2 separate regions of the Homo sapiens genome follow, and region 2 is linked to region 1. Evidence: fine-mapped expression QTL. A gene starts in region 1. The other region holds a variant in brackets. All regions are shown on one strand. Distances are from middle to middle.

The links. PIP is the estimated chance that this variant, and not a neighbour inherited with it, causes the effect.
Region 2: its variant is the best candidate, but not a certain one, in a credible set for the expression of CHD1 in monocytes after Pam3CSK4 (Quach 2016, PIP 0.68).

Annotation. Positions count from the first base shown.
Region 1 is chr5:98,923,502-98,934,572 of GRCh38, forward strand. It overlaps CHD1 (chromodomain helicase DNA binding protein 1), which reads right to left and starts at 5,506. Exons shown (of 36, transcript NM_001270.4): 1 at 5,038-5,506; 2 at 2,833-3,033. The coding sequence starts at 2,885. It overlaps CHD1-DT (CHD1 divergent transcript), which reads left to right and starts at 5,061. Exons shown (of 4, transcript NR_151718.1): 1 at 5,061-5,141. It overlaps LOC100289230 (a long non-coding RNA gene), which reads left to right and starts at 5,633. Exons shown (of 1, transcript NR_036530.1): 1 at 5,633-7,508. RefSeq lists silencers at 4,650-5,279, 5,540-5,749 and enhancers at 5,523-6,421, 5,910-6,239, 10,195-10,374.
Region 2 is chr5:98,881,498-98,892,568 of GRCh38, forward strand. CHD1 (chromodomain helicase DNA binding protein 1) reads right to left here. Exons shown (of 36, transcript NM_001270.4): 15 at 11,028-11,071; 16 at 7,579-7,741; 17 at 6,591-6,743; 18 at 4,081-4,152; 19 at 1,591-1,740; 20 at 478-626. It also overlaps the pseudogene RNU6-402P. Among named protein-coding and RNA genes, the nearest start is that of CHD1-DT, 42 kb to the right of the region's middle. The variant T/A (reference allele first, on the strand shown) is at 3,430.

The sequences.
Region 1 (11,071 bases):
CGTCTGCCTCCTGGGTTCAAGCAATTCTCCTGCCTCAGCCTCGCGAGCAGCTGGGATTACAGGCCACCACACCCAGCTCATTTTGTATTTTTGGTAGAGACAGGATTTCTCCATGTTGGTCAAGGTGGTCTCGAACTCCCAACCTCAGGTGATCTGCCTGCTCGGCCTCCCAAAGTGCTGGGATTACAGGCGTAAGCCACCGCACCCGGCCACAAGGTTTAATTTTTTTTCACCTGTAGTATCAAATTGGACTTATTACTCCTCCTCGCTTTAGATATGGCAGAAAAATATATAAAATATTGGAACAGGTAAGTAGTCAGAATATACCAGCACATGATCTGTCTGCATATCCAACTAGAAGATTTACTCTCGAGTCTTATCTCCTATTTTATGAATAGTTTGGTTCCTTTGTTTCCTCTAGGTATTTCTACCTACTAACCATTCCATTCCAACTATGAATAAGAAAATGTGAGGCCGGGTGTGGCAGCTCACACCTGTAATCCCAACACTTTGGGAGGCCAAGGTGGGAGGACTGCTTGAGCCCATGAGTTCAAGACCAGCTGAGGCAATATGGTGAGACCTCATCTCTACAAAAAATTTTAAAATTAGCTGAGTGTGGTGGCATGCACGCCTTTCAGGATGCTGAGGTGGGAGAATCGTTTGAGCCCAGGAGGTGGAGGCAGAGGCTGCAGTGAGCTGAGACTACACAACTGTACTCCAGCCTGGGTGACAGAGTGAGGCCCTGTCTCAAAAGAAAAGAAAAGAAAAAAAAAATTGTGGGTGGACAATATGACTCTTCTATTTACTTAACTATAGTCAGTAGTCAACATACCTATAGAGATTTGAATCAAAGCTCAGATTCAAAAGTCTTTTAATTAAACCTCAACTCTGGTGATTCTAGTAAAACTTTACTGTTTGAAACTTTACGATGCACTTTGTAATTAATTAAAATGAAACTTCAATATCAGTTCAATCCTTAGAGTTGAGGCAATCATATGAGTTTTAATTAATGCAGAGATAGCATCAACTCAGGTTGTATAACTCCTAGACCAATACTTGTTCAAGTAATAATGCTGCTTTCCATAACTGTTCCTTATTTTATTCTCTATGATGTTCTTGCTTATCCAAACAGTATGTATGAAAGCTGATAAACTAAAGTATAACTAGCAAGGTCAGAAAATTCCAAGTGTCAGGCCTGGCGTGGTGGCTCATGCCTATAATCTCAGCACTTTGGGAGCTCGAGGCAGGTGGATCACTTGAGGCCAGGAGTTCGAGACCAGCCTGGCCAATGTGGCGAAACCCCATCTCTACAAAAAAAATACAAAAATTAGCTGGGAGTGGTGGCTAGCGCCTGTAATCCCAGCTACTCCGGAGGCTGAGGTAGGAGAAACACTTGAGCCTGGGAGGTGGAGGTTGCAGTGAGCCGGGATCACACCACTGCACTCCAGCCTGGGCGACAGAGCAAGACTCTGTCTCAAAAAAAAAAAAAGAAAAAGAAAAGTCCAAGTTTCAGATCAAATACAAATACCACTATTTAGTTTTCTATCTAACATTTTTTCTTAATCTTCCTAATTGCCAAAACTTTCCTGTTTCTTGTCCACCCCCATGTCTCCATCACTGTAATTAATGTTTTTTTTATATAGTATCCTGTGTTACACAAAACATGCTGGTTACAATAAGCAAATATTCAGTGCTCATTATCTCAGAAAATATTTTAAGCCCTTTACATGAAGCATCTCAATCCTCAAATTTTTTTTAAATTTTATTTTTTATAAATTACAGACAAAGTCTCACTATGCTGCCTAAACTGGTCTCCAACTTTTGAGTTCAAGTGATCCTCCTTCCTCAGCCTCTCAAAGTGCTGGGATTACAAACAGGATCCAACAAGCCCAGCCGTGAACTTTAAATAAGATAAACAATAGTTTAATCCCCTCTTTATGGGGCAAAAATCAGAGCCTCAGAGATTAAGTAATTTGCCCTAATTCACACAACTAATAAGAGGTAGAAATAGGGTAAGCAAACAGTTTGACTCCAGTGCCCACATTCCTAATTTCTATATATGATAATGCATATAACTACATGGATTGTAAACTAATGTGCAGATAACTCAAAATTTGAGAGCTACAGAATTTAAAGAATCTTCTTTGCAAACACTTGACCCAAGCAAGAACTCTTAACTCCTTCACAGATAATTAAAACTCCAATCTGAAAATAAAAAAGGGCCACAGTAATATTTCAACAAATGTCTGGCTCAGCACTGTCTAAAACTTTCTCCAGTGATAGAATGTTTTCTATGTGCTGTCCAATATGGTAGCCACTAGCCACATGTGATTATTCAGCACTTGAAATATATCTAGTATGACTAAGTAAATTCTGAATATTTTGTAATTGAGTTCAAATAGCCACATGTGGCTAGTGGTTACCACACTGGACAGTACAGGTATAGAAGACAAAATGCCAGAAAAAGATGAGTGAAAAAATTTTTATTGCCTTCATCTAGAAATTTCACTAACAGTCAAAACAATTTAAATCTATTATACATGCTCCAGCTTAATTATTAGCTCAAATATAAACTTCCAAATAGATTTAAGTAAACAAAAACTTTCTATATTTAAGATCTACTGTGTATCTGAATGAAAAATATAATTAAAACCTGTATTATGAAAAAAGGTTCGTATATCAGAATTTTTTTAGTATTTGGATAGCTAAGAGGAAAACCTGAAAACTCTGCTACCTATGAGGAAAACTAAATAACAACAATAACAATAAAGAAAAAAGTCAAGTTTTCAACTCTCTTCATAGTAAACAATTGATAACAAAGTGCTTACTTACCTTGATTCTCCACTACTGTTTCTAACACTTTCTTCATCACTGTGTCCATTCATTGTAAATTATTATCAAGAAGTTTTAAAGTAAAATATAAATCTTCCCAGTTTAAAAGATGAATATAAATACTGACTCCTTGAATATAAAAATTCACAGATGAATTTTCTTCAACAGTCACAGGTTTTCTGGGACTCTCCTTTGATTCACCTAAAGAAAATATATTAATAAATTAACAAAATTTCCTGCAGAAAAAAGGTAAATTAAGCCCTGTCTAAAACGTATAAATCTACGTAGGCCAATTAGACTACAGCTGTTAAGGAAGAAGTGGGGGCCTTTTATTAAATACTTAAAATATCTAGACTTGTAATAACTACACTCCTGACTGCTAACTAGAATTTAGTATGCTACTGCTAATATACTTCGGACAGAAAAAATTAAAATATTTGTGGAGTGAAAGGATTTTTAGAGACTAACTGCAACTAACAATGTTTTTATAGACTCCTAAAGCAAGGTGATACGATGTAACATATGCATACATCCCAAGAGTAGATAACGGAGTCTTATTAGATAACTTGGTCGAATAAATGAAGTGGGGGGGGGGGTGGGAGGAGGTTACCTTTAATCAAGCCCTCACTCCTATCACCAAGAACTTCATACACTTGAGTGAGAAAGTTCTGAAAACGCTCCCATGGGAGGAACAGGCAAATAAAAGATACCATATACTCTCAACAAAAATGCATAGCTCAAAATAAATGTGTTATTTAACAGGTAAACGGATAGTGGGATGATAACATTTAAATAATACTTAACCAGTTTGCACTTGGTTTTTATTTTGTGAAAAAAATTGAAAAGGTAATAGAATATACACTATATCTGATTTTTTACGTAAAAAATTTGGGGCAAGAATAATGAACCAAGACACACCATTTCCACCTTTAAAGATTTCAGTACAACACTGAAGAATCACCTACAAGCCATCCACGAATAAACAAAGGAGATCTCTGGCAGGGGAGGGAGAGGAAGAAGCGGGGGAAGGAGACGTCAGATCCTTCCCCAGCCAGAAAGTACCGAGACAGCCAACTGAGAGCAGAGCTGTCCTCCGACCTCAGCAAAGAGAATTCACTCCTACGATTATTTCCATTCCACAAGAGAGGGAGGGAAACAGATTGTTACCAACTCAATGATAGCAAAGTCTGCATCTGGATCAGGATGTTAATTCTCTAGACTACTGTCCAGTAGACTCTGCAAGAACAGGTTATCTAAAAAGTAACCGTTCTACTCAACATTTATTCCTAATGTTAAATATTAATCTCAACCCTAGTCAAAGTGCCTTACTGAACAATTAAGTCTTAAAAAATCTAAGTATGTTAACAAACTGCCTTTCCCGTTTCTTCCTTTAAAAAGTTCACTCCCCTTTTCGTTCTTTCCTTTTCACCTTCCTTTCGTCCCTCAAAATGGCTTTCTCTGTACATTTTAACTTCCTTTCCCCTCCATCTCCCTTATCCGAATAAGTCCTCTGAGACCCTTTTCACAACCCTGAGTTCTGAAGCTCCAAGCGCACACAGCGCTGTGTCCTCTCAAGCGTCTCCACAATGACTACCCTAAGTTATTAAACCTCTTCAATCCTCTGTCTTTTAGCAGTTGCTTTGCTCCTGCTAAGTTTTTAAAGCGGCACTCGAAAGAGGTTTGGAAACCATCCTCACTCATCCATCCAGCGCGCTCCAATCAGCCTCCCTCGCGGACCTGCCCCCCTCTCCCAGGGCCTCCATCCCGGTCCAGGAGTCCCTCTTCCCGCCTCAAACTTCCCGCAGACCCGCCCCGCGCCCTCCCAGGCTCGCCCGAGCCGCCGCCCCCTCCCCCTCCCGCCGCTCCCCACGTGCTGGGAGCCCGGGTCGCGGCAGGACCCACGCACCGGCTAAGTGCTAGCCATTCGCGGGTCTCCTCTCGCGGCCCGGTCGGCACCAAGCCGAAGAGGCCGGGGCAGGGCCGCCGGGCCGGCGCAAGGATGCGTTCTGCGGCCCCGGCCTGTACTCGCCGCTCACACGCCCCCTGCGCGCCAGGCCCGTACACCGCCACCGGCACTCACAGAGCCACCCGGCCTTCACCCGGCCGCTGGGCCGCCGCCTGGGCACCGCGCCGCGCCCGCCCTCCGCCCGGCCGGTTCCTGTCCTCTCCGCCACATCCTGACCCGCCCGCCGCCCCCTTTCTTACCGGCGGGCTTGGCGGGGCGGAGGGAGCCGACTCGGGTGGACGGCCTCCCCCGCGCCCAGGCCCGGGATCTCCGCCGCCCAGTCCTAGGGCTCCGGCGTCTCGGGGTAAGCAAGAGTCCGTGCGGGGGAGGGGGAAGGGGACAGACGCGGAGGGGAAGGGGAAGCCCCGGTCCGCAGCACCAACGCGCGATCCCCTGCGGAGTGGAGCTAACAATTCATTATTGAAGCACCAAGGGCGAGGGCAGCAAGAGCTATAAGTAACCAGTCGTCGCCGCCGCCGCCGCCGCCGTCGCGCGCGCGCTCCCGCTCCCTCCGCTTATCTGCCCCCGGCAGCCGCCATGACGCCGAGAAAGCAAGCGAGCGCAACCGTCTCCGTCGTAGCCGCCGCCGCCACCGAGGTCGCCGTCGCCTCCGCCTCCCGCGCGACGTAAGCGCCTCTGCTCACTCCCCTTCCCGACAGAGCGCGAGGCGGGCGGGCGCGCGCACGCCGAAGCCTTTCTGCTCGCGCGCGGGAGGCGGGAGGGACTACGTTGAAGGGTCGTGGGCGTAGGAAAAAAGCGATTGGTGCTGGGGCGGGGCGGGGGGGGCGAGTGCGCGCACGCGCACGAATGGGAGTGCGCACGGCGGATGCGCAGAGGCTGTCGGACTCTGACTGCGCGGAGACCGCTGGACTCTGGTCGCGGCCTTAGTCCGCTGATCCTCGCTTGGGTGCCCGCCCTTAGCGGCCCGGCGTTGAATTCCGGGAAGTGGGAGCTTCAGGCTCGCTCCGTGCGGGTATGGGCGCTAATGTCACTTGGGATGGTTGCGCAAGGACATCGCGGCGGACACTGACAAGGAACCGGGGAGGAACGGGGGTGGGGAGAGACTGCGATGGGACTCGGGAAGCCGGGAAGGGCCGCGCTGAATAAGCCTAAGGGGCCGGGTCGCAAGGAGTGTCGGGTAGCACAGGCCTCGGCTCAGTCGGAGCGCCAGGCCTCAGGGTCCGGGCGGGGGCTGCTGCGTCACACCAGGCAGCCTGGGAACGCAACTGTTGGGCAACCGTGGTGGCCTCTCGCCACCTCTTACGCTTGGGCGATCTGCGATTGACGCATCCTGGGAGCTGATGTCCCGCACGGGCGGGGCGCCGGAGGAGGAGAGAAAATAGAGACCCGGTTGTTGACAGCCTGTGATGCCGCTTGATTCATGTGTGGGTGGCCTGGTTTAGAAATGTACCACCCTTCCTTTCTAGGTTCCTCCCCGGAGGGCGGGGTGACGGGTGCGGCGCCGAATCGCAACAAAAAACGCTGCTCGAGGGATGTTAGTAACTGTCTCAGCTTAAGTTGCTGCCTTTTAGCTTACAGTTTGTATCGTAACTGTAATTGTGGATCTTAGTTAAATCCCTTCAGTGTGTTGGAAACATATTTTTAAGTGTATTTTTGAAACATACTTAGAGCATTTTGAAATGCTTTTTTGAAAGCGTTTTTTAAATCAAAATTCTGTTACACTTTATTTTTTTCAGTCTGCAGATGAACTTGACTCACTCAAGGTTAATGATTTTTGTTTTTTATTTATGTTTGTAGAGGCGGGGTTTTGTCATGTTGCTAGGTTGGTGTTGAACTCCTGAGCTCGAGCGATCCACCTGCCACTGCCTTCCAAAGTGCTGGAATTACAGGCGTGAGCCACGGCGCCCGGTGGCCGAGGTTAATAATAATTAAAAGTTTCTAATCCCATTGTTCAGTTATTTGATTTGGTGTAAAGGCGCACTTTCCAAGTCAGATGAGTTTGTGGTAACATACATTCCCCAAATAATTATTTTTCCCTTGTGGGAAATATTCCAGTTTTAGGCTACCAGCTGTTTAAACAGTTTGGTTCAAATCCTTCAAAAAAATCTCAAAACATAACTCCACATATGTATTTACTACATATTGAAGGGTGTATTCACTTGGAGAAGTAGGAGAAAGCAAACAGATGCCAATGGCCTTTTTGAAAACATGTATCTATCAGCAATAATTGAATAGCAAAACGAAGTGGAACACTACCATCCTTTGCAATATTAGATAGTTTTAATACTGGGTTGTGAGGAATGAAAAGATCATACAAATCGTCATTTCTGAAGTCATTTCTGAAGTCGTCATTTCTGAACTGAGTGCTAATTTTTCATATTAAGCTTTATGTTAATATCCTTAATGAGAGGAACTTCCTGTGCCCGTAATTTCTCCAGAGAAACTATTAACATACACAGAATGTTGTAATCAGAAGTATAGTTCAGTTAATAAAGTCCTCAATTACAACTCTGACATTTTGTCATTGTCTTATGAAAAGAATTACTGTATATACAGTCTATTTTACGTTTTCCGGAAGCACGTCAGGCAGGTTTTTTGTTTTTTTACTACTAATTGTGCCATTGAATATGCTATTCTGTCGTATTGTGCCATCAAACATGCTATTCGAAAAAAGATCTTGCCCAATTTGTAATAAAATATTGAACATTGGAGATTTAGATTTCGAGTAAAATCATACTTTATTGCTTTGCAGAAGTACACAGTAGGTGGAAAATTGCAACAATCTTGCCAGTTCATTTTTTAAAAAGCGTGTAGGTAATCCAAAGATACCTTTTTGATGATTTGTTATCAACATAGTTAAATTTGCAGTGTCACTTTATTTGAATAAACTAGCTTTATCTCTACTTAGTGGTACTAAAACAATAGCCAAACAGTTGATAATCTCAACACATGACTAACGAAAAATTCCACATAATTAACATTAACCAGGAGGTTTTTGTTACTATTTAATTTCTCATTTTTAAAATTTCATATTCTTTGGAAAGAATATTACTTTTCCGGAATCTAAGACAGCATTTTGTGGGTCCTTAATTGTGATATGCTTTACTAGGTAAAGTACTAAATGGGTATCCTTAGGTGGGGATAGGCTGGGAACCACATATCCAGAATTGTGAAATATATAACATAAACAGGATAACTTGCTCCTTTGTTAGCTTTTTGGATGCCAGGGTTAAGATTTTAATTCCATAATTATGTCCTTGTTGCCTGGAGGATTTGCATATGAGAAACCACAAAAACAATCGGGACATTATTAAAATACCCTAGAATCTCAACCTGTGACAGTATTTCCCATGTCCTTGCAAAACCAGAGGAAGTCTTTCCAATATGATTCTTAAATTTACAAAGTCCTCTGAATAGAAACCATGAAATCCTAAGTCATCTTCTAGTGAAGATTTGCTGTACATTTTCTGTTTTCCTAATAAGAAATTAGAGGAGTTTAGTTCCCAGTGTTGGGCAAGGGATAGGACTCAGTCACCTGGAAAGTTCTTTTGTAACTACACGTGCCTGACACTCCTATTCTTCCCCTCTGCTGATATGCAGAATTTCTAGGTTCTAGGTAGTATTTGGGAAGTTTCCCAGATTATTCTGATATCTACCAGCGGCTCATCCACCTTCTTTATGGTCACTGTATTTGGGGATTTTGAATGATAAATTCTTGAATCACTAAAAGCTAAATTTCAAACAGAAAATTGTTAGAGATGATACTAAGAGGCAAGTATGTATAAAATCTAATAGGCATTGAAGAAGATACAAAGATTCCATCCTCTACTGAAAAATTAAGTGTGCACGCAGAGTAAGAAAGAAGGTTAAGTAGCCAACCTCAAAAATATTTAAAAATTATTGCATTGATGCTGTATCACTCATTTCCTTGCCCAGATTCTTTTTTTTTTTTTTTTTTTTTGAGACAGAGTCTCACTTTGTCACCCAGGCTGGAGTGCAGTGGTGCTATCTCATTTCACTGCAATCTCCGCTTTCTGGGTTCAAGTGATTCTCATGCCTCAGCCTTCCAAGTAGCTGGGACTACAGGCACGCGCCACCACACCCAGCTAATTTTGTGTACTTTTAGTAGAGACTGGGTTTCACCATGTTGGCAAGGCTGGTGTCAAACTCCTGACCTCAGGTGATCTGCCTGCTTCAGCCTCCCAAAGTGCTGGGATTACAGGTGTGAGCCACCATGCCCAGCCCTTGCCCAGATTCTTTATTCACTGCTGTCCAAATACTGTTGGTCCTCTGTACCTGCAGGGATTTGCAGGTACAGAGGCTCAACTATAAGGGACTTGAGCATCCCCAGGTTTTGGTAAATGGGGGTCCTGGAACTAATTCTCTGCAGATACTGAGGGACAAACGGTACCACTCATTTTAATGCAGAAATTTTGTATTCATCCTTTCTTTTTAACTCCCACTACCGGGCTTAGTTTAGGCCTCTATTTTCTCTATCTTTCCCTTCAGCTTATCCTTTAGGTTTCCTTCAAACTTGAAATCTAACTAAATCAGTCCCCTGTTATATACCACATATATTTGTAAACTAAACATATATGAAGATGTATGTACATATCATATATTCCTAGTATTTTAGTTACTTAATTTTTTCACAGACTAATCTCAGTATTGCCTCTCATCATTCCTAATGGACACTTGGTACTCTAGACACTTCTTCAGGTCACTGGAAAGGTATCTCTCATTGTAAGTGGATATAACCCATTTATCTTATGGGTCAGTCTTTCATAAGTTCGTTTAAGTAAATGCTCAAGAACTGTTGAGTACCTTGACACAATTGTGCTGACAACCTATAAGACTTGTCAGAAAACTCTCTGACCTCCCTTTTAGGACATGGAATTGAGTATTCTGTAAGTGCGGCATGTCATTGTATCACAATATAGCATTTGTTTCCATACTACATTGTGAGGTCCTTGAGCAAAGAGTACTGTGCCCCAGTGCATTGTATTGATATTCATTCAATACAAATGTAAGAATGTATTACATACCAGACATTCTGCTGAGGGTAGGGAGGGATTATAATACAGCAAAAACTAACACTTTCAAAGTTAAAGCCTAGTTCAGGACACAGTCACACTATAAAATGACAACTTAGAAAAATAGTATGAAGAGACATACGGTGCTGTGAGAATCCATAATAAAGAACCCTAGTCAGAAAAGTCTCAAGGAAGTGACGTGATCGTTGTGGTCTAGAGCTGAAGAATTAATATGAATTAGGTAGGCAAGAAAGGGAAGTACAAGAGCTGCTTTCTGGGTAAAAGAAACAACATGGGCAAAGATTCTGGGGTCAGAGAGATCACGTCAGTGCACTTGCCAGTTTGCCAAGAACAGGCCGTATTCACTTTCAGAAGTGTTCAGGTTTGGATAGTAAATTGCAGGGCCATCCTATCTATAAGGGACTCTAAGAAGCATGGTTCTGCTGGAGCAAACAGCAGCTGGACAAGATGAGGCTACATAGACACTAGGCCCAAAGGCTAAGTGAAGTATGTTTTTCAAGACAATGAGGAAGCTATTGAAGGATTTGAAACTGGGTGGTAGCTTGATGGGACTGGCAAATTGAAAGTTTTTACTTTAGGTATAAATCCCAAAGAAGGATTAGATGTGGGTTGAAGTAGATACAGTATTCCTAATTAAGTCAGGAGTCTTTGGCAGATAAGAGAGGTTAGAAATGACATGATAGACTAGGATAGTGTAATGGAGGTGGAGAGAAGTAGAATTGGGAAGGGTAACAAAACTTGATGGGATTGGATTCAGGCAGGGTTAGGAGGAGGAGGGATGTTAGTCATTTGCAGCTGAATGACATTCACTTATATAGTAATGTATTTGGAGATGTATAGATAGGGAGATCATTACGTTTGGTTTAAGACAGAATTGGGCCGGGTGTGATGGCTCATCCCAGCACTTTGGGAGGCCAAAGCGGGTGGATCACAAGGTCAGGAGATCGAGACCATCCTGGCCAACACGTTGAAACCCTATCTCTACTAAAAATTAAAAATTAAAAAATTAGCCGGGCATGGTGGCATGCACCTGTAGTCCCAGCTATTTGGGAGGCTGAGGCAGGAGAATGGATTGAACCTGGGAGGCGGAGGTTGCAGTGAGCCGAGATCGTGACACTGCCTTCCAGCCTGAGCGACAGAGCTAGACTCTGTCTTGGGAAAAAAAAAAAAAAAAAAAAAGACTTACAGAATTTCTGATGCCTTTGAATTGCCCAGGAGG
Region 2 (11,071 bases), 42 kb before region 1:
CAAGTATTAGAATCCTTTTTTTTTTTTTTGGAGACAGTGTCTCCTTCTGTCACCCAGGCTGAAGTGCACTGGCACAATCTTAGCTCACTGCAACCTCCGCCTCCCGGGCTCAACTGATCCTCCCACCTCAGCCTCCTGAGTAGCTGGGACTACAGTTGTGTGTCACCATGCCCAGCTAAGTTTTTTATTTTTTGCAGAGGTGGGGTTTCACTATGTTGCCTAGTGCAGTATATTTATTTTAAAATAAGGAACTTGAAGCATAGAAGTGAAAGAGATTACCCCTAAAATTACAAATCTGTAGCGATGAAACCAGGTATTTGAAGTATGTCTTCTAACTAGAAATTAGTCCAAAGTCTTCCAAAATATAAAAAGTACAACTCTGAATACATTTCCTCAATGATCTACAGTGATGTAACATATCAAAAATATGAGTTTACTGACTCTAAAATGACATTTTTTTAATAATCAAGTAACCACCTTGATGGGGCAGAACCTGTATGTAGTACTGTCTTCCCAGTTGTGTCCATTCTTTGAATTACAAGATGATCTAAAACCATCTTCTTTTTCGCCCTTTCAAGAATATCTTCTTCAACTGATCCCTTTGTAACTAGACGATAAATATTCACCTGTAAAAATACACATGAGGAAACAAATTGCAGTATAAAGGATTTGTTTTGCTAACCTCAAGTGCCTAAACACTGGCACACAAATTGAAGCTCATTCTATATGAAGTTTTCACTGGTTAAAAGCAAAATGAAAATTTAAAAAACATGTTTAAAGCTAGAGTTCCTCAACTTAAGGGACTATTTTGAAACTATATCCTTCCTTCCTTCTTAATATTTTGATAAGGAGATTGCATTTGCTTATTTTTTTTTAAAGGAATGACAGTAATTTTTATGTTATGATTTAGCTGGGGAAAATGGGGGGGGGGCATGTAAACTTCTGATAGCCTTCTTATACTCGTTGCCTTGATTCTAATGTTTCATCACTCTATATAATGCAAAATTCTATGAACTACTCCCCAAGTTAATAAGAAACCCACCATAAAACAAACTCTCCAAAATTGAAAAGAATTGGTGTAGTAAATTTTCCCTATTTCTCTAGGTCAAAGATTCTGCAGTAAATTTTCCCTATTTCTCTAGGTAAAGGTTCAGTACCACCATTTAAGGGTATGTTGTTACAATTATAAAATGGGGTCACGTTTACATGTGGAGAATCTTGTAAGCACATGGACAAAATATAGACTAACAGAAAGGTAGCATATGCTACTCAAACTCCCTTTCAAGTTAAAATAAGCAAGTAAAGACGTTTTAAAGTTTTTATTATAAAATGAAAAACACTGCATTTTATAGTTACGACTAGAATACGGGATCAAAACAGAATACATGATCCTATATATGCATAGTTATCTCAATTCTGTCAGACTCTCCAGGTGATTTTGGTAAACCAAGCTCCTCAGTATCCTATCGGTTAAACAGTAGTATGACTGTTACAGTGATCTTATCCTCTAGAGGATAAACTGAAATCACTTCCAAAAAAAAAAAAAGAATTCTAAAACAGCAATATAATATAAATTAAAATTAAAAATACCTGTTTCTTTTGCCCAATTCGATGGGCTCTAGCCTGTGCCTGAAGATCATTCTGTGGATTCCAATCGGAATCAAATATAACAACAGTGTCAGCAGAGGCTAAATTAATCCCTAGACCTCCAGCTCTTGTGGACAGCAAAAAGCAAAAATCCTGTAAGAAATTGAATAATCAAAATGAAAAATTTTTCAATTGATTTTCTGAACGTAAGCAGTATGGTACTAATTAAACAGAAAGGCAGTTTTTAAAACTAATAAACATCTAGCAAGACCAATCAACAAAAAGACTCCAAAATCAAATATATATGTTATTAACACCAAATTCAATACAGTGTTTACTTCTGGTGAAAAAGAAAGAAAACGGGATAGGAAAGGAATGACACTTCAACTCTAACTGTAAATTTTATTTCCTTAAAAAATAAAAGGCATATACCAAAAAAAGAACTCTATGGAAAACAGCGTGGAAATTCCTTAAAGGAACTAAAAGTAGAACTACCACTTGATCCCAGGAATCCCACTACTGAGTATCTGCCCAGAGCAAAAAAGTCATTACATGAAAAAGATACTTGTACACACGATTACAGCAGCACAATTTGCAACTGCAACAATGTGGAACCAGCCCAAACGCCCATCAATCAACAAGAAGATAAACTGTGGTATACATACACAGTGGAAAACTACTCAGCCATAAAGAAGAATGAAATAATGGCATTTGCAGCAACCTAGATGGGATTGGAGACTAAATATATATATATATATATATATATATATATATATATTTTTTTTTTTTTTTTTTTTTTTTGACAGAGTCTCACTCTTTTTATCTTGGCTCACTGCAACCTCCACCTCCTAGGTTCAAGCAATTCTCCTGCCTCAGCCTCCCGAGTAGCTGGGATTACAGGCAGGCACTACCACACCCAGCTAATTTTTGTATTTTTAGTAGAGATGCGGTTTCACCATGTTGGCCAGGCTGGTCTCTAACTCTTTGTTTTTTGTTTTTTTTTTTTTGAGACGGAGTCTCGCTCTGTCACCCAGGCTGGAGTGCAGTGGCGCGATCTCGGTTCACTGCAAGCTCCGCCTCCCGGGTTCACACCATTCTCCTGCTTCAGCCTCCCGAGTAGCTGGGACTACAGGCGCCCGCCACTACGCCCAGCTAATTTTTTTGTATTTTTAGTAGAGATGGGGTTTCACTGTGTTAGCCAGAATGGTCTCGATCTCCTGACCTCATGATCCGCCCGTCTCAGCCTCCCAAAGTGCTGGGATTACAAGCGTGAGCCACCACGCCCAGCCTGGAGACTACTATTCTGAGTGAAGTAACTCAGGAATGGAAAACCAAACATTGTATGTTCTCACTTGTAAGAGGGAACTAAGCTATGAGGATGCAAAGTAATAAGAATGATACAAAGGACTCTGGGGACTCAGAGGGAAAGGGTAGGAGGGGGTGAGCGATAAAAGACTACAAATTTGGTTCAGTGTATACTGCTCAGGTGAAGGGTGCACCAAAATCTCACAAACCACCACTACAGAGCTTACTCATTTAACCAAATATCACCTGTTTCCCAAAAATCCACGGAAATAAAAAAAATTTTTTTTAAAGGAAAGTGGGCTACTTTGTTGTTTTTGGGTTTTTTCTTTCCCTTTTTTTTTTTTTGAGACAGAGTCTCACTCTATTGCCTGGGCTAGAGTCTAGTGACATGATCATGGCTCACCGCAGCCTCAAACTCCTGAGCTAAGTGATCCACTCAACTCAGCCTCCCAAGTAACTGGGACTACAACCGAGTGCCACTATGCCCAGTTTATTTTTTTTACTTTTTATTTTTATTTTTTTTTGTACAGACAGCAG[T/A]CTCACTGTTTCCCAGGGTGGTCTCAAACTCCTGGTCTGAAGCGATTCTCCTGCATTGGCCTCCCAAAGTGCTGGGATTACAGGGGTGAGCTACTGTGCCCAATCTGGCTAATTTATTTTGAAGCAAATTAAAATAACTGTTCCATGCTGAAACATTATTGATAATAAAGAGTAAAATTCTTGGCTGGGCGCGGTGGCTTCATGCCTGTAATCCTAGCACTTTGGGAGGCTGAGGCAGGTGGATCACCTGAGGTCAGGAGTTCAAGACCGGCCTAGCCAACATGGTGAAGCCCCATCTCTACTAAAACTACAAAAACTAGCTGGGCACAGTGGCACGCGCCTGTAATCCCAGCTACTTGTGAGGCTGAGGCAGGAGAATAGCTTGAACCTGGGAGGCAGAGGTTGCAGTGAGTTGAGATTGTGCCACTGCACTCCAGCCTGGGCCACAGAGTGAGACTCTGTCTCAAAGATAAAATCCTTAGGTTTAAACTAGAATAGTGACTTTAAAACCTCATTTGCTAATCAAAGGTGGCTAACACCACTCTTTTTTTATCAAACTAGATATGAAGATTAAAAATGTCTGAATATAATAATGTAATATACTGATACTAAATCAAAATTATTTATAATTTTAAAAGCACTAATACATACCTCTGATCCCTCAGCATTAAAATGATCTAGAGCTTGTTTCCTCAGTTCTCCTTTTATTGATCCATCTAATCTCTAGAAAAAAACACATTAAAATACTGCATAAACAGAATCAAAGTATTACAAAGCAATTAAAATCAATTATAAAATTAAGTAGAAATGTGAAGCATGTCCTTTGCTAAAACTATAATAGAAAGTACTTACTAGACAGTAAAATAATGCTCAGGCATTCTGTCTTTAGTCTGTGCTCCAAATCACTAAGACTGCACCCTCAAGAGTAAATACAGCATAGGCTGTCATACTATTCTGCCTGAGTCCCCATTCTAAAAGTATGTGATTGAGTACATAGCTGTTTGCAAACACCTGAAACAGTTTCATATCATGACATGATATACTATGTTATACTCTCATGTTTTATCATTTTACTTTCAAAATGTTGGTGCAACCCATTAAACTGATTCACAGATCCATTAACAGGTTACAATTCAGTTTTAAAAACACTGATTAAGTCCAGCGTGGTTACTAGAACAGCATTAGTGTCACCTGAGAACATAGATAAGCAAATTATTGAGTCCTACCCCAGACCTACTGAAGGTGTTTAGCAAAGGCCATCCAGTTAATTCTGATGCACACTAAAGTTTGAAAATTATTGATGTGAAGCATCATGGGTTCTAGTCAACAGCCAGCAAATGAGTATTTTATTCACTTGGTATCTTGAGCAAGTGATTTGACTTTTCTCCACAAACTTTTTCACCATGTCAGTTCCGCTTTAAACAAAACAGACATAATAGTAGTCCCTCCTTCATAGACTATAGAGAACTCAGTGAGAGAACACAGGAAAACATGTAGCACAGTGCCTACAACATACTGAACGCTTATTAAACATTAGCTGCTATTTCACTTTAGAAATGGCAATGATTTTATAATTATTAACTGGTTATAGACTAGAAATAACTTGTCTACTATGATCCATGCATTTAACCGACGAATTAAACTAGTATTTTGGGAAGCCATATGCCTACCTTTGCTTTGTTACTATATGAATTTTAACTCTGCGAAGAAAAAATATAAACATTTTAAATGATGTATTCTAAGTGGTTTAAATGAAGTGCTCTTAATTATCACCTACTCAAAGTAGGAAAACATGTCTATTAAAGTTTTAAAAAATTAAAATAATTTTTCTTTTCCACTAAAATACATATTAGTACAAATTTTAAGAATAGTGGCATCTCATTACTGTGGCATGACCTAAACCAAATAAAATTAAAAATTATTCTCTCCAGGAAGTGACCTAGGAATGAGAAGGAATTAGCAACAGAGAAGTGGCGCTTATTAACACTCAAAATTAGTCAAACTAATTTTTTGTTTGACTATGTACACAATAATTTGTTTAAAAACAAATCAACACAGGGCAGAAGAGGAAGGCAAATGGAAGGACAAGAGGAATAGCTAAAGGCTACAGGTTCTTTCTGATGAAAATGTTCTAAAACCACCTGTCGAACAATTATACACATCTGTGAACATAGTAAAAACCACTGAATTGTATACTTTAAATGAGTAAACTGTATGATATGGGAATTACGTATCAATAAAGGTGTTTTCAAAAACCTCAACTAATGGTACTCTTCTACGTTTTCCCCTAAATGACTGCAATTATTTCTCAATGATATTCCTATCACCAAATACCTGTCCTTCTTCACAACACTTACCAGAATTGTAATGTTACATTTATTTGTAATCACCTGCTTGATGTCTGTCTCCTGTAAGAGATGATAAGCTCTGACAAAGCAGGGATTGTGTGTTCAGTCCCATTATTATAATTTTACTGCTATTTTACTATCTGCACTAAATATACAGCATTTACTAGCTGTATCTACATAATGTCTGCTATGTTCCTAGTACTGTTCATAAAATTGCTTTGAGAATTAAGTAATTAGATCTGAAGTACTGAAAACAGCACCTGACTTTAAATACTCATCAATATTAGCTTTAGTTATATTGAATGAACTTCAATATAAATTTTGAATAGATGGAAGGGAATTTTGGTCTTTAGTTTCTTCTGTAAAGTTGTCTAGTTTTACTCAACAAACCCTGTGTCAGATAACTATGAGCACACCAATCATCAGAATCTTGGCAGCATTCACATTCAGAGACTACTGGCTGTTTTCCTCATTCAGATTGAAGACTAAAGGCTCCCCTGCTTTTAGATCTATCCAATCAAGAAAATTCTGCCTTAGTTCAGTTTTTAAAATCTAAAGCAAGCATAGAAGAAAAAGACAGAATTAAAAGAAAATAAAAATCACAGGAAAGGAAGAAAAATTGTTTTGTTGCAATATGTAAAGTCAAGAAAAACCGGGAATGACAAATATTTTTTAAAGCAGATACATCTTTTTAAAGAAAAAGTACAGTTTATATAAAAACCTAAACACTTATAAAATAATTTCAGTTAATTCTGTAAAATATGCACAGGAATTAGATAAAATTTAAAACAACAAATACAATTAAATGCTTACTTGAAAGGGGAATTGACGATATTTCAAATATTCTGCAAGTATATCTAACATCCGCACCATTTGTGAAAAAATAAGAACTCGATTGCCTCGTTCTCTTAGGCGAATTAATAGCTTGTCAAGAAGAATCAATTTTCCGCTACTACGAATTAAGTGCTACAGAAACAATTCAAGTTGTTATATGTTAAAAGACATAAATGGTAAGTTGTCCACGTAACACTTTAGTTGCCTGAATTATTTTAAATTGAGATTTTAAATTTTCATGTTAGAAAACAACTTATTTCACTTTTCAAAATTTTCTAAGACCTTTACCATTTCACTCTATGACTGAAGCTAAAATACCCTTTGCCATATCACACCTAGGTTTTGTTATACTATCGGGGAGGAAAAAAGTACTGTTCACTCTGTTTGCTAGTTACTATACCACAGTGTTTCTCCAAAAATCTTAGCTGAAGAACAATGACATCAGAAGCAGCAGCAACTAAGCAACCAAAGGTTTAAAAAGAGTAAGCAAATGCATTCTAATGTATTAATTCTAGATGCTGATCCTAGCCCTTCAATGCACTACAGTGGCTGGATTGCAGCTGTGCCTTCGCACTTCTGACTTATCTTCCAGAAGTACCAGGAAGGGTTAAGATGTGAGGTCAAGATGTCCTTTAGATTACCATTTACCAAATCACAAATGCAGCACAATTACTATTAACGATTTTTTCATAATTATGAACATACTGTGGGATTTTCTTGCTGGATAAGTTATTATAGGCCATGGTTTGAGAGACCTATTTTTAGAAAATTCATCAAAATAATTACATAAATTAGAATTTTAAAGTCTTTTCTACAAAGATTAATAACTGAGACCATTATAGAAAGGCACCATTAACTAAAGAGAACTTTTATCCAATAAGTTAAAGCATTGAGCCATTTTCGATTGTAAGTGAAATCAACATTTCTAGAACTTTATCACAAAGAAACAACATTTAAAAATTCTTACTTGTAAGGCCTCCTGTTTATTATAGAATTCATTATTATCTGGTGGTTTAATGAGGTAGCAATGGTTACAACATTTCTTTAGCTCCATCATAATGTTCAAAAAGCCTGAGGTACTGCCCTTGGAACCTTTGCTGAGGGCTTTGTAATTCCTAGTTAAAATCCATCTTAAAAAAAAAAATTATGAAAACGATGTTTAGCAGAACAATTACCAGGATAAATTCTAAAAGCATTAAAACAAACAAAAAAAGCCAACGATAGTACCAAAGTAAAACTGTACCGTTATAAAATTCACAGCTGTATATACAACGGACCAAACCTCTTTCATAATACTCATGAGAACACAACTTGTTTTCTGAACCATTAGCTATACACAGAACAGGCTAATGTAACATAATTATTACAGTGTATTAATCCTTTCCCCTCAAATTTGCTAAAAAGATGGTCAGCTGCATTATTTATCTGAATCTTCTTACAACTTTTACTGCATTAGACAGCTAATGAAACTGAATTATTTTGCATGGACCTAAAAGAAACCTGAGGATACCTGGTTTTAGCCACGACTGCCTTCTCTAGATTGCAATTACACAATACATATGTAACTTATAGAAAACATCTTGGTGATATTTTACTACTCCAAACTACATGTAACAATTCCTGTGCTCACTTCGGCAGCATTTATACTAAAACTGGACCAATACAGAGATTAGAATGGTCCCCATACAAGGATGACATGCAAATCCATGAACACTCCATATTTTTGTATATATATCCCATGAATACTACACAGCCACAGAAAAAAAAGGATGAAATAATGCCCTTCAAATAAAATAATATCCATGGATGGAGCTGTAGACCATAATCTAAGTGAATTAACACAGAAACAGAAAACCAAACACCGCATGTTCTCACTTACAAGTGCAAGTTAAACACTGAGCACACATGGACATAAACATGTAACAACACTGTCGACTACTAGAGGGGGGAAGGAGGGGAACATGGGTTGAAAACTACCCACTGCGTACCATGCTCACTACCTGGATGCAATATTACCCATGTAACAAACCTGCACATATACCTCCAGTATCTAAAATAAAAGCTGAATTTAAAAAAGAAAAGAAAAATTTCCTCTCACCATGACCTTTTCCACCTTTTATTTTCTTCCTTTTTACAAGGTCAGTTTTTGAAGGGACTTGAAAGTCTCAAATATCTAGTGTACATACTCTTTTATTACCATTCTTTACCACTAGTTATACAGGCAGTTCCCCAAAACTGGAATGAAAAGCAAAACGAAACCCATGGACAATGCTCAATGCCCTAAGAGGTAATCAAGAATAAAGAATATTTTTCCTTATCCAGAAAAAATTTATTATTAATTTCTCTAGAGGTAAAAATTCTAAGAATTTTTCCAGAAATTTATGGCAGTATCTTATTACCTTAGTTGCCAAAAAGTACCTTGAAGAGTTTAAGTTCAACATCCATGATATATGACTAGCACTAAGAGAATTACAGGTGAATGTGTCTTCTTCCTACTTTGACTTTTCTTTCTAAATATTCTACAAAATGCATTACTTTTTTTAAAGAACCCCATAACAAAATTAGATAATCGCCATTGTGTACTACAAAATATACTCTTCTCATAATTATTAATTTGAATATTATCAAGCACCTACATCTACCTACCAATCTGTAGGAAATACAGAGGATACTGTTAAACTATTTTAGAGGGAAGTACTATGCAAAATCTAGATTGTGGAAAAATTCTACAGAATAACTGTTTTCCCCATCGTATACATTTTAACAAAAAAGAAGTACCTATAGATAATAAACTCAGAGACAAATCAATTGCCATATATGAACCTATCTCAATCCCAATTCGAGTAAACGTAAAAAAATTTTTTGAGACAACAGAGAAAACTTGAACACTGATACTGAATATTGGTATCAAGAAATTGATTCTGCTGAGAGAGCAATAATTTCCTAAATTGTGAAAATTTTAAAGTGGGTTATTTATTTACTTAAGATGGGGTCTCACTCTGTCACCCAGGCTGGAGTGCAGTGGCATGACCTCGGTTCACTGCAACCTCTGCCTCATGGGCTCAAGCGATCCTCCCACCTCAGCCTACCAAGCAGCTGGGACCACATGCACCCACCACCACTCCTGGCTAAGTTTTTTGTATCTTGAGTAGAGACAGGGTTTTGCCATGTTGCCTAGGCTGGTCTCAAACTCTTGAGGCTCAAGTGATCTGTCTGCCTCAGCCTCCCAAAGTACTGGGATTACAGGCATGAGCCACTGGGCCCAGGTGATACTAGTATTTTTAAAAATCAATTATTAGAAATACACAGAAAAATATTTATGGAAAAATTTCCAATCTGCTTCAAAAGGACAGGTACTGAGGGAAATGGGGATGACCAGAGATACATAAAAAGACTGGCATGAGTTGAAAGGGAAGCTGGGGCTGGGCACAGTGGCTCATACCTGTAATCCCAGCACTTTGGAAGGCTGAGGCGTGTGGATCGCTTGGGGCCAGGAGTTCAGGATCAGCCTGGCCAGCATGGCAAAACCCTGTCTCTACTAAAAATAAAAAAATCAGCAGGGCATTGTGGGGCACACCTGTAAACCCAGCTACTTGGGAGGCTGAGGCACCAGAATCATTTGAAACCAGAAGGTGGAGGTTGCAGTGAGCCAAGATTGTGCCACTGTACTCCAGCCTGGAGTACAAAGGGAGACTCCGTCTCAAAAAACAAACAAACAAAAAAAAGAAAGAAAGTGAAGCTGAGTCATGGGTATAAGAGTTCATTAAATTATCCTATTTTTGTATATGTCTGACATCTTCCATAATAAAAATAATTATGCAATTAAGTATATTCTTTCAAATGTATGGCACCTATAGATTTACCATAGAATATAAATGTTTCTGAAACTCCAAATGCATGTAGCAATATATTTCCTTTTATGCAATTAAATGTTTAAACAGATATTAGAACAGATTTTCCTTTCTGATTCTTTGAAAAGTCCTACTGTATAGATCTTGACATACAAAATTTATACCAGCTATGATTTGTTAATACTCTTCAAAAAGCAGCAGAGCCTAAAATTTTTTTCTAAGTTTCTTTTTTTGGCCTCTGTTAATTGTCATAATCATATAATACCTTTATTATTGTGGAAATCCTAACACTTAAACTCTTTATAAGATAACAGTATGATATATAGGAAAGCAATTAATTATGTGTCAGAAGATGAATTACTCAGTGTTGTCACTCATAATTTTGGATATGTCATTAAATCTCCTTTTGCCTCCTAACGACACAGAATAAACTTATTCTGAAACTCGAGAATTGCAACTGCTCTAAGACACTATTGTAGAGAAGGTGGGGGCACCAAAAGCAGGACACAGACATGGAAGGTTTTCAGAATTAGAAGTTCAGAACTGTGTTCTGTGTACAGCTTACTTGTAATATTGTTTCTGTAAAGCACTCATTTCCATTCTTAAAAT